2 separate regions of the Homo sapiens genome follow, and region 2 is linked to region 1. The links come from fine-mapping of genetic effects on gene expression. Tissue or cell type: whole blood. Region 1 holds a variant in brackets; the other region holds the start of a gene. All regions are shown on one strand. Distances are between the middles of the regions.

Evidence for each region. PIP is the estimated chance that this variant, and not a neighbour inherited with it, causes the effect.
Region 2: POLR3H starts here. The variant in region 1 is fine-mapped to the expression of POLR3H in whole blood (TOPMed, PIP 0.97).

Annotation. Positions count from the first base shown.
Region 1 is chr22:41,579,160-41,587,260 of GRCh38, forward strand. It overlaps PMM1 (phosphomannomutase 1), which reads right to left. Exons shown (of 8, transcript NM_002676.3): 2 at 6,917-7,034; 3 at 5,368-5,444; 4 at 5,122-5,213; 5 at 4,800-4,899. Among named protein-coding and RNA genes, the nearest start is that of PMM1, 6.6 kb to the right of the region's middle. The variant G/T (reference allele first, on the strand shown) is at 5,019.
Region 2 is chr22:41,539,886-41,547,986 of GRCh38, forward strand. POLR3H (RNA polymerase III subunit H) reads right to left here and starts at 4,585. Exons shown (of 6, transcript NM_001018050.4): 1 at 4,106-4,585; 2 at 814-910. The coding sequence starts at 4,216. RefSeq lists enhancers at 3,946-4,783, 4,106-4,205, 4,216-4,305 and silencers at 4,356-4,485, 4,676-4,775.

The sequences.
Region 1 (8,101 bases):
AAGGGCGAGGAGACGGGGCAATCTGGATCCCACATCAGTGTCCACCTCAGGGCAGGGCTCGATCCTGTTATCTGTAACCAGCTCAACAAAGCAAATACTCAGAAATGAGCATGGGAGCTGAGAGCAGGAGACCTGTGAGGAGGTGGCTGTGGGCATTCACAGAGGGCAGCAGGATGCCAGGCATGGCAGAGCACCCAGCATGCAAAGACGCGGCTGGGCTGGGGACTAGGTAGTGCCCAGGCCGGCCCCGTCCCTCTGAGCAGGAACTCTGGCAGCAGCTCCGCAAACGTGGAGCAGGGGGACATTCTCCCCGCCAGCCCCCAGGATCTCCATCTCAGAGGGCCACAAAGGGGAGCAGCTATGCCCAGTCTGAGGGGCAGCTGAACATCTAAACCAGCCAGCAGGACATTCAGCTGACAGAGGGTCTCGAGACCGGGCTGGGAAGTCTGACCACATCCTGGGGGACCAAGAGGCGCTGAGGATTCTGGAGCACAGGAGTGGGGTGGCTGGTATGGCCCTGTAGTCAGAGCCGGGTAGGACTGGGGCGGAAAGGCAGGCAGTGGTCAGCAGCATGGAGCTTGGAGAAGTGGCCCAGGGAGGATGTCAGATATAAAGCCAGACACCCCCTAGCCTGAGATCTGAAGGCAAGTAGCCAGGCTTGGCTACTGTACTCCTCAGCTGTGTGACCATGGGCAAGTCACCTGACCTCTCTGAGCCTATTTCCTGGACTAAAGGACAGAGAAGTAATGAATGACCCCTGCCTGCTTCCCTCTCATGGAAAAGCAGAGATAAGGGATGTGAGCCCCCTGCCAGCCTTGGCCTGGCTTTCCAGCAGGTAGGTGGGCCCCAGGGAGGCCAGAGTCCCCACCAGCGTCCACTCTGTAGGCCCAGGGCTACCACTAAGACTGCCCCAGGCTCTGAAGAAATGTTTCCACATGGCCGAGGCTGGCTGCACCTCCCTTCTCTGGAGAACAAGGCTGGTCACTAGACAGCCCCATGTGCAAGGCCAGCCTCAGCAGGGACCGGCACTGTGACCTCGAGCTGGTTACTCACCCTCTGGCCTCAGTGTCCTCATCTAAGGAAGGGAAGTACTCATCCCCGCTTCAGGGTTCTGGAAGATGAGCTGGGTTAAGCATTTATTTACACCAGCTCTGGGCCAGGGCAGGGCGCACAGATCAGGAAGGTTCATGCTCCTCCAGTGCCAGAAGGGAGCAAACAAGAGCCAAAAATACTTGAGAAGGCTCTGGGGTGGGGAGTTAGGGTGTGGCTCCCCAACTCCATGCCAGGTGGGGTCCATGTGCCACCTCATCCAGTGCTCATGACAGCCCATGGGATGGGAACTGCTATTACCCCCACCTTACACATAAGGAAACTGAGGCACACGTTAGTAAAGATGCTTTTCCAGGTTACAAGGCAAATGGGTAGAGCTGGGACTGGGAACCTGGGTGGACAGGAAGGGATAACTTCTCAGCACGTGTATTGGGGGGGAAGGGTTCTTTGCCTAAGACCAATCCTAACTACCCCAAAAAAAAAGTCCCCGTGGCCGGGCGCAGCGGCTCACATCTATAATCCCAGCACTTTGGGAGGCCAAGGTAGGCAGATCACTTGAGGCCAGGGATTTGAGACCAGCCTGAACATGGCAAAACCCTGTCCCTACTAAAAAATACAAAAATTAGGCCGGGCGCGGTGGCTCATGCCCGTAATTCCAGCACTTTGGAAGGCCAAGGAGGGCGGATCACAAGGTTAAGAGATCGAGACCATCCTAGCCAGCATGGTGAAACCCTGTCTCTACTAAAAATACAAAAATTAGCTGGGCGTGGTGGCAGGCGCTTGTAGTCCCAGCTACTTGGGAGGCTGAGGCAGGAGAATCGCTTGAACCCGGGAGGCAGAGGTTGCAGCGAGCCGAGATCTCACCACTGCACTCCAGCCTGGCGACAGAGTGAGACTCCATCTCAAAAAAAAAAAAAAAAAAAAAACCCAAAACCAAACCAAAACCAAAACCAAAACCAAAAAACTTAGCCAGGTGTGGTGGCATGGGCCTGTAATCCCAGCTACTCAGGAGGCTGAGGCAGGAGAATTGCTTGAGCCTAGGCAGCGAAGGTTGCAGTGAGCTGAGATCATGCTACTGCACTCCAGCCTGGGTGACAGAGCAAGACTCTATCAAGAAAAAAAAAAAAAGTCCCTGTGCCTGTGGGCACTGCCTCCCCTAAGCCTCAGGGCACAGGTGGGAGTCAGGAGTCACTGAGCTGAGAGGCACCCTCAGGGAGGCACCAGAGGGCCAATGGCAAAATCAAATCTTTGCTCTGCAACCAACTCCCTATGTGACCTCGGGCAGGGCCCTTCTCATCGAGCCTTGGTTTCCTCATTTATAAAATGGAGATAATACAGCTCATTTCATTCATTCAAAAGGTATTTCTTGCCGGGCACAGTGGCTCACACCTATAATCACTTTGGAAGGTTGAGGTGGGTGGATTGCCTGAGCTCAGGAGTTCGAGACCAGCCTGGGCAACACGGTGAAACCCCATCTCTACTAAAATACAAAATATTAGGCCGGGCACAGTGGCCACGCCTGTAATCCCAGCACTTTGGCAGGCTGAGGCAGGCGGATCACGAGGTCAGAAGATCGAGACCATCCTGGCCAACATGGTGAAACCCCGTCTCTACTAAAAATACAAAAAATTAGCTGGGCATTGTGGTGCATGTAATCCTAGCTACTTGGGAAGGCTGAGGCAGAAGAATCGCTTGAACCAGCGAGTCAGGGGTTCCAGTGAGCCGAGATTGTGCCACTGCACTCCAGCCTGGTGACAGAGCAAGACTCTGTCTAAAAAAAAAAAATTAGCCGGGCGTGGCAGCATGTGCCTGTAGTCCCAGATACTTGGGAGGCTGGGGCAGAAGAATTGTTTGAACCCGGGAGGTGGAGGTTGCAGTGAGCCGAGATTGTGCCACAGCACTCCAGCCTGGGTGACAGAGCGAAACTCAGTCTCCAAAAAAAAAAAAACAAAAAAGGGTATTTCTTTGCGAGGTGCGGTGGCTCACACCTACAGTCTTGGTGCTTTGGAAGGCTGAGGGAGAAGGCCCACTTGAGGCTAGGAGTTCAAAACTGGCCTGGGAGACACAGCGAGATCCCATCCCTACAAAATATTTTAAAAATTAGCCTGGCATGGTGTAATGCACCTGTGGTCCCAGCTACTCAGGAGGCTGAGGTGTGAGGATCGCTTGAGCCTGAGAGATCGAGGCTGCAGTGAGCTAGGACTGGATCACTGCACTGCACTCCAGACTGGGCAACAGAGTAAGACCCTGTCTCAAAAACAATAACAACAAAAAGTATGCCATGTGCCAAGCATAGGGGATCCAGAGGAGAACAAGCCGCAGAAATCCCTCATGGAGCTTACAGTTCTGGGACAGGGACAGACAGTAATTCGGATTTTAAAAGTAGATGATGAAAGTTGTCCAAGGCTACTTGGGGAGAAATAAGGTAGGGGAAGGAGGAGGAAGTGCAGCAGTGGATGTGATACTCTCGGAGGCCCCACTGGGAAAAGGATGTGAAAGGGGATTTGAAGGAGGGGAGGGACGAGCTGGGCCTGAGAGAAGTGTGCTCTGACAGAGGCACAGCACTCTAGAATCAGCCAAGAGGCCATAGCTGGAGCAGAGGGCAGGGAGAGCCACCGAACAGGTCAGAGAGAATGACAGAATGACGTGGACGGGCCAGCATGGAAAGGTCTGGATGGGTGGATTGCTCCATCCCCGAGAGGGAGGGAGGCGGTGGGGAGAAAAGCAAAATGCACATCAAGGTTTAGCAGGGGCAGTACAGGCAGAGGTGAGAGGACCTTGGTGTGTTCCAGGAATAGAAAGTGGAACTTGAAGGGCATAGAAAGGAGACGCGGAGAGCCAGAGCCAGACAGAGCCCTCAGGGCTTGAGGCACCATAGCAGGGGGCTAGGACATCATCCAGTTGGCAACGAGGAGCCAAGGAAGGATTGTAAATGAGGGGGTGGGGCTGGGGGGTGAATGCGGCTGACATGTTTGAAAGGTTCTAATGGGCTGTGCGTGGTGGCTCATGCCTGTAATCCCAGAACTTTGGGAGGCCGAGGCAGGCGGATCACCTTAGGTCAGGAGTTCGAGACCAGCCTGGCCAACGTGGTGAAACCCTGCCTCTACTAAAAAAGTACAAAAATTAGCTGGGTGTAGTGGTGCATGCCTGTAATTCCAGCTACTTGGGAGGCTGAGGCAGGAGAATCGCTTGAACACGGGAGGTGGGAGTTGCAGTGAGCTGAGATCATGCCACTGCACTCCAGCCTCTATCTATTTTTTTGGAGACTCTATCTCCAAAAAGAAAAAGAAAGAAAGGTTCTCAGTGGCATTGCTGGAGAGCAGGCTGGCAGGGCTATGCAAGGGGTAGGGAGGGACAGAGAGGAAAGTTGGGGCAGCCTGGGGCTGGGGAAAGGGGTAATCTAGAAAGTGGGGTCTCAGTTCTGCAGATGAACAGATTTGACACTGACTCGAGAGGCTGATGAAATAAGAGTTGTTGGACCCGATGTGGGTGGGAAGGTGGAAATGATGTTCCCAGGTGTTGGCCTGGCTCAGTGGGTGGCTGCCTGGTGCTGGTCACCTAGGAAGGGGGACCAGCAGCATTGTAAAGATGCAGGTGTGTCTACAACAATGGCACACAGTAGGTGCCTGAAAGGGTATCAGTTAAATCAGAACACATCCCCCAGTCTATTTTACTGATGAGAAAATAAAGGCTCAGATAAATTGAGTGACTGAGGCCCTACAGGCCTAAGATTGCATAGCTAGTGGTACCTTGTCCAGTTCGGAGAACTCGATCCTCTCCTCCAGGGTGCAGCTCCGGCCGATGGGCGAGATGTTCAGCATGCCATTCCGGAACTCGATGAAGGTTCCACTGGTGGTGAGGGAGGGCGGGGAGCCAGAGAGAACCAGAACGGCCCTGAATTCAAATCTAGCCCCACCTGGGACCCCAGCCTCCTAGGACTTCAAAGGGGACAAGAATCCACACTCCCC[G/T]CAAAAAATCAGGGGCCCAAGTATCTCCAGGTTCCCTCTGAGGGACCCACACTTCTCCTCCCTCAGGCCCCAGGTTCTGGAGACCAGGCTGGTGGGACCTCACCGCTTCTTGGGCAGCCTGAGCAGGGCCATGTAGCTGAGGCAGAAGTTGATCAAGTCCTGCAGCAGCTCCTCCCCCAGGTGGTTCTGGATGGTCTGGCCAAGGAACACAGGGCTCTGAGCGTGGCCTGGGCTGCCTGACCCTGAGACAGGCACAGTGTCTCTCCCCCAGCCCAGGACAGAAGCCCCCTTGGACTGCTCCACTATGGAAAAGTGGGGTGCCCCTGGCTAAGCCCTGGGGGACACTGACCTGCTTGGAGAGCAGTCGTCCGTGCTTATACTGCACCGTCCCGTTCTCGGCAAACACATAATCAAACTTCTCAATGACTTCAGGGTCACATAGAGGACAGGAGGAAGAAAGAGTGTGAGACCACGTCTGTGACCCCACGGGCAAGTAAAGAGAGAGGAAGCCTACACCCTTGGTTTCACATTCAAAGGCCATTTGTTCAATCTGAGGCTACAACCTGCTTCTCCAGCCTTTCTCCCTCTGCAGCTTGGTTTTCTTCCAAAGAAGCCAGTCACACCTGTGGGCCTCTGCACACAGGCATCCATGCAGGTCCTTCTGTCAGAACCGCCCTTCCCTGGCTTCCCTGCCACTCATCCTCCAAGATTCAGCTTCCTCCTCTGGAAGCCATGCAGTACTCTCTGGCAGAGGGCATCATTTCCACTCTGTGCTCCCCTGCCCCTCTGCAGAGGGGCTCCCTTCTGTTCTATAGCTGCCATCGCACTGGGTTCTCAAGGCTGGCTGCATGGGAGAGTTGGAGGTTTCAGCTCTGACTGCCAGGCGAAGCAGTTGGAGTGGGTGGGAGGTGGGAGGCACAGGGAGCACAGCCCAGAGGCTGTTGCGGGGTCTGGGTGGCACGTGGTTACCTGGACTATGATGGCGTGGTGGAGATGGAGACAGAGGGGACAGGGAGATATTTTGGGGTTTGCTGATGGAATAAACAAGAGGTGGGGAAAAGGAAAAATTCGAGGAAGTTTCTGGCTTGAGGAACTGGAGGCACCCACTTTGACTGGGCTGAGACCAGGGGCTCTGAGGTCCAGTCGATTTCCTGGATAACTTCAGAGTCATCCTCTGTTAAATGGGATGATCACGCCTACTCTAAAGTGTGATTGTGGGGATCAAATGCAATGACATTAACACATGATCATTTTTGACAAATGGTAGCCATCATTGGTTCTGCCCTTTTATTTATTTATTTATTTATTTATTTATTTATTTATTTATTTTTGGATGTGTAGCCTCACTCTGTCACCCAGGCTGGAGTGCAGTGGCCTGATCTTGGCTCACTGCAACCTCCGCCTCCCAGGTTCAAGCGATTCTCCTGCCTCAGCCTCCCGAGTAGCTGGGATTACAGGCACGTGCCAACACACCCAGCTAATTTTTTGTATTTTTAGTAGAGACGGGGTTTCACCATGTTGGCCAGGCTGGTCTTGAACTCCTCATCTCAAGTGATCCATCCGCCTCGGCCTCCCAAAGTGCTGGGATTACAGGCGTAAGCCACTGTGCCGGCTGGTTCAGCCCATTTTAAAGATGAGGAAATCAAGACTCAGCAGGGAGAAATGAGAATGTAAACTGCATAAGGGCAGGTTCTGCTTGCTTTGCCCCAGCCATTTCTCAAGGGCCTGGCACAATCCCTGGCAATAGGAAGTGCTCAAGTGTTTGTCAAATCAGTAAGGGAACTATCTGGCTGCTCTCTCTCTATTTCTTCTGCCCCACAGAAGCAGGACTGGATCTTTGAAGACGCCCAGGAATCTCTCAAACTCCCCACTCCCTCTACCCCCAGCCTCACTCCTACCTTCATCCCCGTCACCCAGCTGCTCAGCGATCTTACAGTAGTCAGAGCCGCCCACCACACCGATCTGCACTCTACTTCGTAGCTTCTGCAGGAAGGCGGCCACCTCAGGGTCAATTTTCTATGGGGGGAGAGGGGAAGCATAGCATTCTGGCTTTCAACATGTCTGGGACCTCCACTTAGCCCTCACTTAGTGCTGAGAACCCAGGAAGCCCACATTCTACCTGGATCTGAAGCAGTACAAAGCTTAGACACCAAAAATTAGACAGGTTGGACACTGTGGCTCAGGTCTGCAATCCCAACACTTTGCGAGGCCAAGGCAGAAAGATCACTTGACCCAGGAGTTTGAGACTAGAGCCTAGGCAGCAAAGGAAGACATTGTCTCTATGAAAAAAAAAATTTTTTTGGAGACGAATTTTTGTTCTGTCATCCAGGCTGGAGTGCAGTGGTGTGATTCTGGCTCACTGAAACCTCTGCCCAGGCTGGAGTGCGATGGCGTGATCTCAGCTCACTGCAACCTCTGCCTCCCGGGTTCAAGCGATTCTTCTGCCTCAGCCTCCCGAGTAGCTGGGATTACAGGCGCCTGCCACCATGCCCAGCTAAGTTTTAAATTTTTAGTAGAGACAGGGTTTCGCCATGTTGGCCAGGCTGGTCTTGAACTCCTGACTTCAGGTGATCCATCCGCCTGGGCCTCCCAAAGTGCTGGGATTATAGGCGTGAGCCACCGTGCCTGGCCGAAAGTTTTTAAAAATTAGCCAGGCATGGGCTGGCACGGTGGTTCACACCAGTAATCCCAGCACTTTGGGAGGCCCAGGAGGGTGGATCACTTGATGTCAGGAGTTCGAGACCAGCCTGGCCAACATGGTGAAACTCTGTTTCTACTAAAAATTAAAAAAAAAAAAAAAAAAAAATTGGCCATGCGCGGTGGCTCACGCCTGTAATCCCAGCACTTTGGGAGGCCGAGGCGGGTGGATCACAAGGTCAGGGGATTGAGACCATCCTGGCTAACATGGTGAAACCCTGTCTCTACTAAAAAATACAAAAAAATTAGCCGGGCGTGGTGGCACGCGCCTGTAGTCCCAGCTACTCGGGAGGGCTGAGGCAGGAGAATGGCGTGAACTTGGGAGGCAGAGCTTGCAGTGAGCTGAGATCACGCCACTGCACTCCAGCCTGGGCGACAGAGCGAGA
Region 2 (8,101 bases), 39 kb before region 1:
AGAATAGGGAGAAACAATCCACGCTGATAAGTCACTGAGTGCTCGTTAGGTGCCAAGGCTCTGTCCTAAGAGCTTTCATGTATTAACTCCTTAATCCTCACAATGGTCTTAGAATATAAAATCTATCCTAAACTGCAGTTGACATCCTGAACTGCAACTGACAGATAAGGAAGCAGAGGCACAGAGCAATGACATATTCAGCCAGGACACACAGCTAGTAAGAAGCAGAGCTCAGCTTTTAATCTTGAGGCCACACTCTTACCTACTGTGTCCTACTATCCAAGTCCCCCACCCCCAGCCAGCCTGCTGATCCCCCTTCCGTCTGCTCTCCACAGGCAGCGGGAAGCCCGAGGAATGGACAAGGTGCAGGGCTCAGTAGCAATGAGACCAAAAGGGCACAGACACAGAGCTATGAAGTCAGAGCTGAAGAGGCCTTGAAAACCAACTAGTCCACATCCCAGGCCTCACAGATGAGGGAACAGAGGCCCAGAGAAGAGAAGTCTGCCGCTGTCACCGGGTCAATTCCTGGCCGATTCAGGATGAGGCCCCACGTCTCCCAGCCTCCAGGACTCCCACCACCCTCTGGCCATCTCTTTGACTTTAGCCTTTTAAAATTTTTTCATATTTTATTTATGTATTTAAAGACAGGGTCTTGCTATGTTGCCCAGGCTGGCCTTGAACTCTGTGGCTCAAGAGATCCTTCCGCCCTCAGCCTTACAGGCACGCACCACTGAACCTGGATTTGGCTTGACCTTTGGCTACAGAAAACTGAGCCCCAAGAAGCCCAATGCCCCAGGGACAGAAGATACCCACCTTTGGTGTGTGATGCGCCATCCCCAGGGAATACATAGGCATCCTCCAGTTTGGTGATATCAAACAGACAAATGCAGAGTCCCACGTTGTACACGACCTGCATGCATACAAACACAGACACACAAGTACACATGGATACAGAGTGACCACAGGCCCAGCTCCCAGGCAATCTGAGCCCCTCACAACCACAAGCAAGCCATGATTATCTCCTTTTTTAGGTGAAAATGAGTTTGTGGAGGGGACCAGGGTAAGGAACCTCAGAAGGATGCAGAGCTCTGGAAGGAGCAGGGCCTCGGGTGACAAAACAGGTCCAGGTTCCAAGGCCAGCTCCACCACCCACTGTGTGACTGCCAAGAGGGTCACTTCACCTCTCTGAGCCTCGGTCTCCCCATCTGCAAATGTGAAATACCAGGCTGCAGAGTTATAAAATAAAGAGAGATAACAGATGTGAAGCCCCTAGCCTTGTACCTGGCTCGTGTATTGGAAACCATCATCATCAAGGATCTTTGTTATTACTAGTGAGGACCAGTGACAGGAATGCTGCCTAAACGTGCACTCTCCGACATCCCAAAGCCAATGCCAGAGCTCACAGTTTAGTGAGCGTCACAGCCACAGCTAAACCCCACTGTGCTCACAACATCTCAGACACACAGACGCAGCCACAGGGACTGCAGCTGGCAGAGGGACACAAGACCTAGGCCCCAAGAATGTGCAGAAATCCCATGCCCTCACCCCACACCACTGTGGTTCAAACGACTGGCTACTCAGTGTCTCCTTATCTGCCACCGTGTCATCACCCCCACTTAGAACCCTTGCAAGAACTGTCCAAGAATTAGCAAGAAGCTCAGAGAACTCAGAGTCGTGGCCAGACCTCACCAAGATAATGCCACAAGATCTGTGCCCTTTGTCAGACCATGGATTTCTGTGTGGGCCCCCTCTCAAACGATTCATCTAATCAAATACTAGAAGACTTGTCCCAACAGGACCTCTACCCCAAAGGGACTATATTCCCTTCTTGGACTTTCCACACCTTCTCTCTCAAGGTCCACACCTCCATCCCCCAACAGACCCTCATCTTCAACCTCACAAAGTAACCAGAAGCCATCCACTTAAAGACTCCATGAGTTCCCTTCACTATCTAGCAACCCCCAAATCAACCTCACCTCTTCTGAAGGGACCTGTCTCATGCGTAAAGCCAGCTAAGCATCCTCTTTCTGGCTCCTTCTCAGCCCATCACCTTCTGATGCTCCACGGATAAAGACCAATACCTCAACTCCGACATCCTACAGGGCTGTGTGGCCTGGCCCCCACCCACCTGTCCAGCCCACCCTCCCCTCTGCCCAAGCCACACCAGCCTCTTCCACACCATGGTGGGTATTTTACCCCTTCTTCTTTTTTTTTTGAAGCGAAGTTTCACTCTTGTCACCCAGGCTGGAAGGCAGTGGTGCGATTTCAGCTCACTGCAACCTCTGCCTCCTGGGTTCAAGTGATTCTTCTCCCTCTGCCTCCCAAGTAGCCGGGATTACAGGTGCCTGCCACCATGCCCAGCTATTTTTTGTATTTTTAGTAGACATGGGGCTTCACCATGTTGGACAGGCTGGTCTCAAACTCCTGACCTTGGGTGATCCACCCGCCTCAGCCTCCCAAAGTGGTGGGATTACAGGTGTGAGCCCCCACGCCCGGCCTGTATTCCTTCTTCACAGGGCCTTTGCACATGCCAGTTCCTGCCTTCAGGGCTCTTCTCTCCACCCAGCCCCCTCCCACCCTAGAAAGGAATCCTCTGGTTGGCTCCACTTCACCATCAGATCTCACCTTCAACCCCACCTCCTCAACAAAGCTGCAGGTCCCCTCATTCCAGGGGACGTTCCTTTGTTCCACAGGTGTGTGAACACCTGTCCCTCATAACATTTACCTCAATTTGTCACCAAACACTCAACTGTGGACCCTTCTCATTCATATCTGCTTTCCCACCACACTATAGCACAGAGCCTTGTCTCTGTTTCATTCATTCAGTCAACAAATGGCCGGGCACGGTGGCTCACACCTGTAATTCCAGCACTTTGGGAGGCTGAGGCAGGCAGATCACCTGAGGTCAGAAGTTTGAGACCAGCCTGGCCAACATGGTGAAACCCCGTCTCTACTAAAAGTACAAAAATTAGCCAGGTGTGGTGGCAGGTGCCTGTAATCCCAGCTACTCAGGAGGCTGAAGCAGAAGAATAGCTTGAACCTGGGAGGTGGAGGTTGCAGTGAGCCAAGATCGCTTCATTGCACCCCAGCCTGGGCGACAAGAGCGGCACTCTTGTCTCACACACACAAACACAAAACAGAAAATTATGGGACATCTACTCCCGCCAGGCTTTGGCTAAATGAGGGGATACTTCAGGGAAGAAGGCAGATAAGGTCCCTGCTCTCAAGGAGAGGGAAAGGAAAAAGTCTAAGAAGGAAAGAGAGTGATGTGACACAGAATACCTGGAAAGGGAGGACTGTCAAAGAAACGGCAGTGGGAAGACCTCTCAGCTGGTACTAAGGCACACAGGCACAGCACAGAGAAGGCGCACAAATATTGGCTGCTGGAATGAAGGGATGAACCTCCTGACAGTTAATTCTGTACTACTAGAACTCTCCATCTTCACGAAAACAATGCATTGACCCGAGGCGATGGCGCACACCTGTAATCCCAGCACTTTGGGAGGCCGAGGCGGGGGGATCAAGAGATCGAGACCATCCTGGCCAAAATGGTGAAACCCCGTCTCTACGAAAAATACAAAAATTAGCTGGGGGTGGTGGCGCGCGCCTGTAGTTGTCCCAGCTACTCGGGAGGCTGGGGCAGGAGAATCGCTTGAACCCGGGAGGCGGAGGTTGCAGTGAGCCGAGATCGCGCCACTGCACTCCAGCCTGGACGAAAGAGCAAGACTCCGTCTCAAAAACAAAAAACAAAACAAAACAAAACAAACAACAACAACAACAAAAACAATGCATGGCTGGAAGGACAGCAATATTTTATCCCCATTTTAAAAATGGAAACTGAGGCCCAGAAGGGGTCAGTAACTTGCCTGCAATTGCAAAGTAATTTAGAATTGTGGAATCTAACACTTCCAGTTACAACTCCCTTTTTCAAGCCCATTTTCTTTTGATCCCCTTCAATATCTCCTTTCACGGTGAAGAAAAGTTCTGAGACATTAAGCTGCTTGCCCACGGCCAGGGCTTGGCATGACCGAGGCCGGGCCTGCGGCCAGTGGGCGGCGCTCGCTCTCCCACGCCAAGGCCTGCCCGCGAGCCGTGGGCCCAGTACCTTGTTGGCCAACTTCTTGTTCAGCTCCTCGGCAATGGAGTCGTTGAGCTTCCTCTCAAACTGCCAAGGGGGGATCCGGACGGTGTCCACCATTTCCACCAGGACGAACATCCCGGCCTGCGCTGGGGGCTCTGGGAACAGGAGGGTCAGTCACGCACCAGGGCCGGGGGCAGGGAGAATCCCCGAGCCCCTTGGTCCCGTCCCAGTCGCTGAGGCCCCCAGGCTGGCGGTGAGGTTGCACGGGGCGGTCTCGGGGGCCCGGTCCGGGCCATGCTCCGCTACTACAACATGAGGAAACTGAGGCCAGAGGGAGGCACTCTCCGTCCACAGCTCCGGGTGCGCGCCCGCGCCGCGAGACCCCGCCACGCCACGCCACTCCACGCCACGCCACTCCACGCCCCGCACCCGCGCCACGTGCCGCCGCTCGTATCACGCACCACGCACCACGCACCGCGCACAGCCGCTCGCGCTTGCGCGACTGCGGGCGAGATTCCGAATCCATCGCTTCCGGAAAACTCACCAATAAGAAACCTCTGTCCACCCCCACCCCGCCGAGGCGGGGCGGGGCTGCCTGTGTGCTCGCGCACAGCGTGGGGCAGAGAGAGGGCGAGGAGAGGGCGGGGCCTCCTCCTTTCACAGGAGCAGAGCGGTTCCCCCGCCCCCGACAGCGCTTTCTGTTGCTAGGCGACCTCCGTGCAATCCCGCCTGATTATCCCTCGCCTGGCCTGTGCTTTACCCGCATTGCTGTCCTCTGCTCGGCAGCCAGAGTGATCCTTTGGAAACGCAAACATATATTACCACATCTAAGTTAAAAAAAAAACCCACCGCAAACATAACATGCTTAGCACCCTTAAGTGTTCCGGAGACAAGGAGAATTAGCAGGAAAGGGGCACTTGGGACTGTTCTGAGATGATGGAAATGTTCTGTATTTTGTTTTCGGTGGTATAACATTGACGTATATAATTGTCCAAACTAATTGAACTCGGCAAGATTTTTGCATTTATTTGTAGACATTATGTTCCAATTGAAAAGTTATAATAAATTGGAACAAAAAACACAACCCATTGAACTTAGAATACTAGATCCAAGCCGGGCGTGGTGGTGTACACCCGTAGTCCCACCTACTCAGAAGCCTGAGACAGCAGCATCGCTTGAGTCCAGGAGTTTGAGGTTGCAGTTTGAGGTTGCATGCTGCACTCTAGCATGGGTGACAGTGACACCTCATGTCTAAACGAAAAAGAAGAAGAAGGAGAGGCGGAAGAAGAAGAAAGAAGAAGGAGAAGAAGAAGAAGAAAGAAGAAAGAAAAGGGAAAGAAGAAAGAAAAGAAGAAAGAAAGAAGAAAAGTCCAAAACCTTTATGGTAGTTCACACGGCCCTGCAAGATCTGACCATACCCCCCTCCTATAGCCCCATCATGCTCTGTCTCGCTGACATTCCAGTCTCATTCATCTTCACGTGATAGCATGGGCTAAGAGAATTTGGTAGCTTACCCAAGATCACGTGTTGACAAGTGGTAGAGGTGGGCCCAGTCTGAACCTCACTACCCTGCCTCTAAAAATTGGTGGGGTGTAGATGTATACTGTAGTGGGTTTTTTTGTTTGTTTGTTTGTTTGAGACGGAGGATCGCTCTGTCGCCCAGGCTGGAGTGCAGTGGCGCGATCTTGGCTCACTGCAAGCTCCGCCTCTCGGGTTCACGCCATTCTCCTGCCTTAGCCTCCCGAGTAGCTGAGACTACAGGCGCCCACCATCACGCCTGGCTAATTTTTCGTATTTTTTTTTAGTAGAGACGAGGTTTCACCGTGTTAGCCAGGATGGTCTCGATCTCCTGACCTCATGATCTGCCCACCTCAGCCTTCCAAAGTGCTGGGATTACAGGTGTGAGCCACCGCGCCCGGGCTTGTAGTGTGTTTTAACCAAAATAACAATTTAGGTACTTACAAAAGATACTTGGGGTAAATGACAGAGGCACTTGGAAATGTATGGTGCCTTAATTTGCTGATTTCACAAGCATAGTGATCTCTCAGTGACACTGGCTGCAGTGATGCTAAATGTGGCCTTCCCTGCATCTATGATTTTATTTTTAGGTGTGCTTCTATAGGATTTGAGGTACTTGAGGACAGCAGCAAATGCTACTTCAGCTCTTTATTCCCACAATCCCCTAACACATTCCTAGGAAGCATTGAGTAAAGGTGTTTAGGGATTACCATTAATTCTTCCTCTCAAATGTTTCCTCTTCATTCCACTCCCACTGCTATTGCTTCGGTTCAGGCCTTTTCTTTTTTTTTTCTTTTGAGACGGAATCTTGCTCTGTCGCCCAGACTGGAGTGCAGTGGCATGATCTCAGCTCAATGCAACCTCCACCTCCTGGGTTCAAGCGATTCTCCTGCCTCAGCTTCCCAAATAGCTGGAATTACAGGTGCCCACCACCACACTTAGCTAACTTTTGTATTTTTAGATAAGATTTCACCATGTTGGCCAGGCTGGTTTCGAACTCCTGACCTCAGGTGATCCCCCCCATCTTGGCCTCTCAAAGTGCTGAGATTACAGGCATGAGCCACCGTGACTAGCCAATATCTGGTCATTTAAAAGTATGTGGCGGGGCCAGGCGTGGTGGTTCACACCTGTAATCCCATCACTTTGGGAGGCCGAGGTGGGTGGATCACAAGGTCAGGAGATTGAGACTATCCTGGCTAACACGGTGAAACTCTGTCTCTACTAAAAATACAAAAAAAAAAAAAAAAAAAAAAAAGTAGCCGGGCGTGGTGGCACGCGCCTGTGGTCCCAGCTACTTGGGAGGCTGAGGCAGAAGAATCACTTGAACCCGGGAGGCAGAGGTTGCAGTGAGCTGAGATCACACCACTGCACTCCAGCCTGGCGACAAAGTGAGACTCCGTCTCAAAAAAAAAAAGTGTGTGGTGGCCAGGCGTGTGGCTCATGCCTGTAATCCCAGCACTTTGGGAGGCCAAGGTGGGCGGATCACCTGAGGTCAGGAGTTCAAGACCAGCCTGACCAACATGGAGAAACCCCGTCTCTACTAAATACAAAATTAGCCGGGCGTGGTGGCGCATGCCTGTAATCCCAGCTACTCAGGAAGGCTGAGGCAGAAGAATCGCTTGAACCCAGGAGGTGGCGGTTCTGGTGAGCAGAGATCGCGCTATTGTACTCCAGCTTCGGCAACAAGAGCAAAACTCCATCTTGAAAAAAAAAGTGTGTAGCACCTCCCTCCTCCCACTCTCTCTCTTGCTCCTCTTTTCCCCATGTGATGTGCCTGCTCCTCCTTTGATTTCCGATATCATGGGAAGCTTCCCGAGGCATCCCTGGAAGCTGAGCCTATGCCAGTACCATGCTTGCTGTAAAGCCTGTGGAACCATGAGCCAACTAAACCTATTTTTTTTTTTTTGAGACGGATTCTTGCTCTGTCGCCCAGGCTGGAGTGCAGTGGCATGATCTCGGCTCACTGCAAGCTCCACCTCCCGGGTTCATGCCATTCTCCTGCCTCAGCCTCCCAAGTAGCTAGGACTACAGGCACCCGCTACCACGCCCAGCTAGTTTTTTGTATTTTTAGTAGAGATGAGGTTTCACCGTGTTAGTCAGGATGGCCTCGATCTCCTCACCTCATGATCCACCCGCCTTGGGCTCCCAAAGTGCTGGGATTACAGGCGTGAGCCACCGTGCCCAGCCAGCCTATTTTCTTTATAAATTAACCAGCTCTGTTGCCCAGGCTGGAGTGCAGTGGCGCTATCAGGGCTCACTGCAACCTCCACCTCCCCATTTCAAGCGATTCTTCTGCCTCAGCCTCCAGACTAGCTGGGATTACAGGCGTGCACCACCACACCTGGATAATTTTGGTACTTTCAGTAGAGACAAGGTTTTGCCATGTTGGCCAGGCTGGTCTGAAACTCTTGACCTCAAGTGATCCTCAGCTTCGGCCTCCCAAAGTGCTGGGATTACAGGCATGAGCCACCACTACCAGCCAGGTATTTCTTTTTTCTTTCT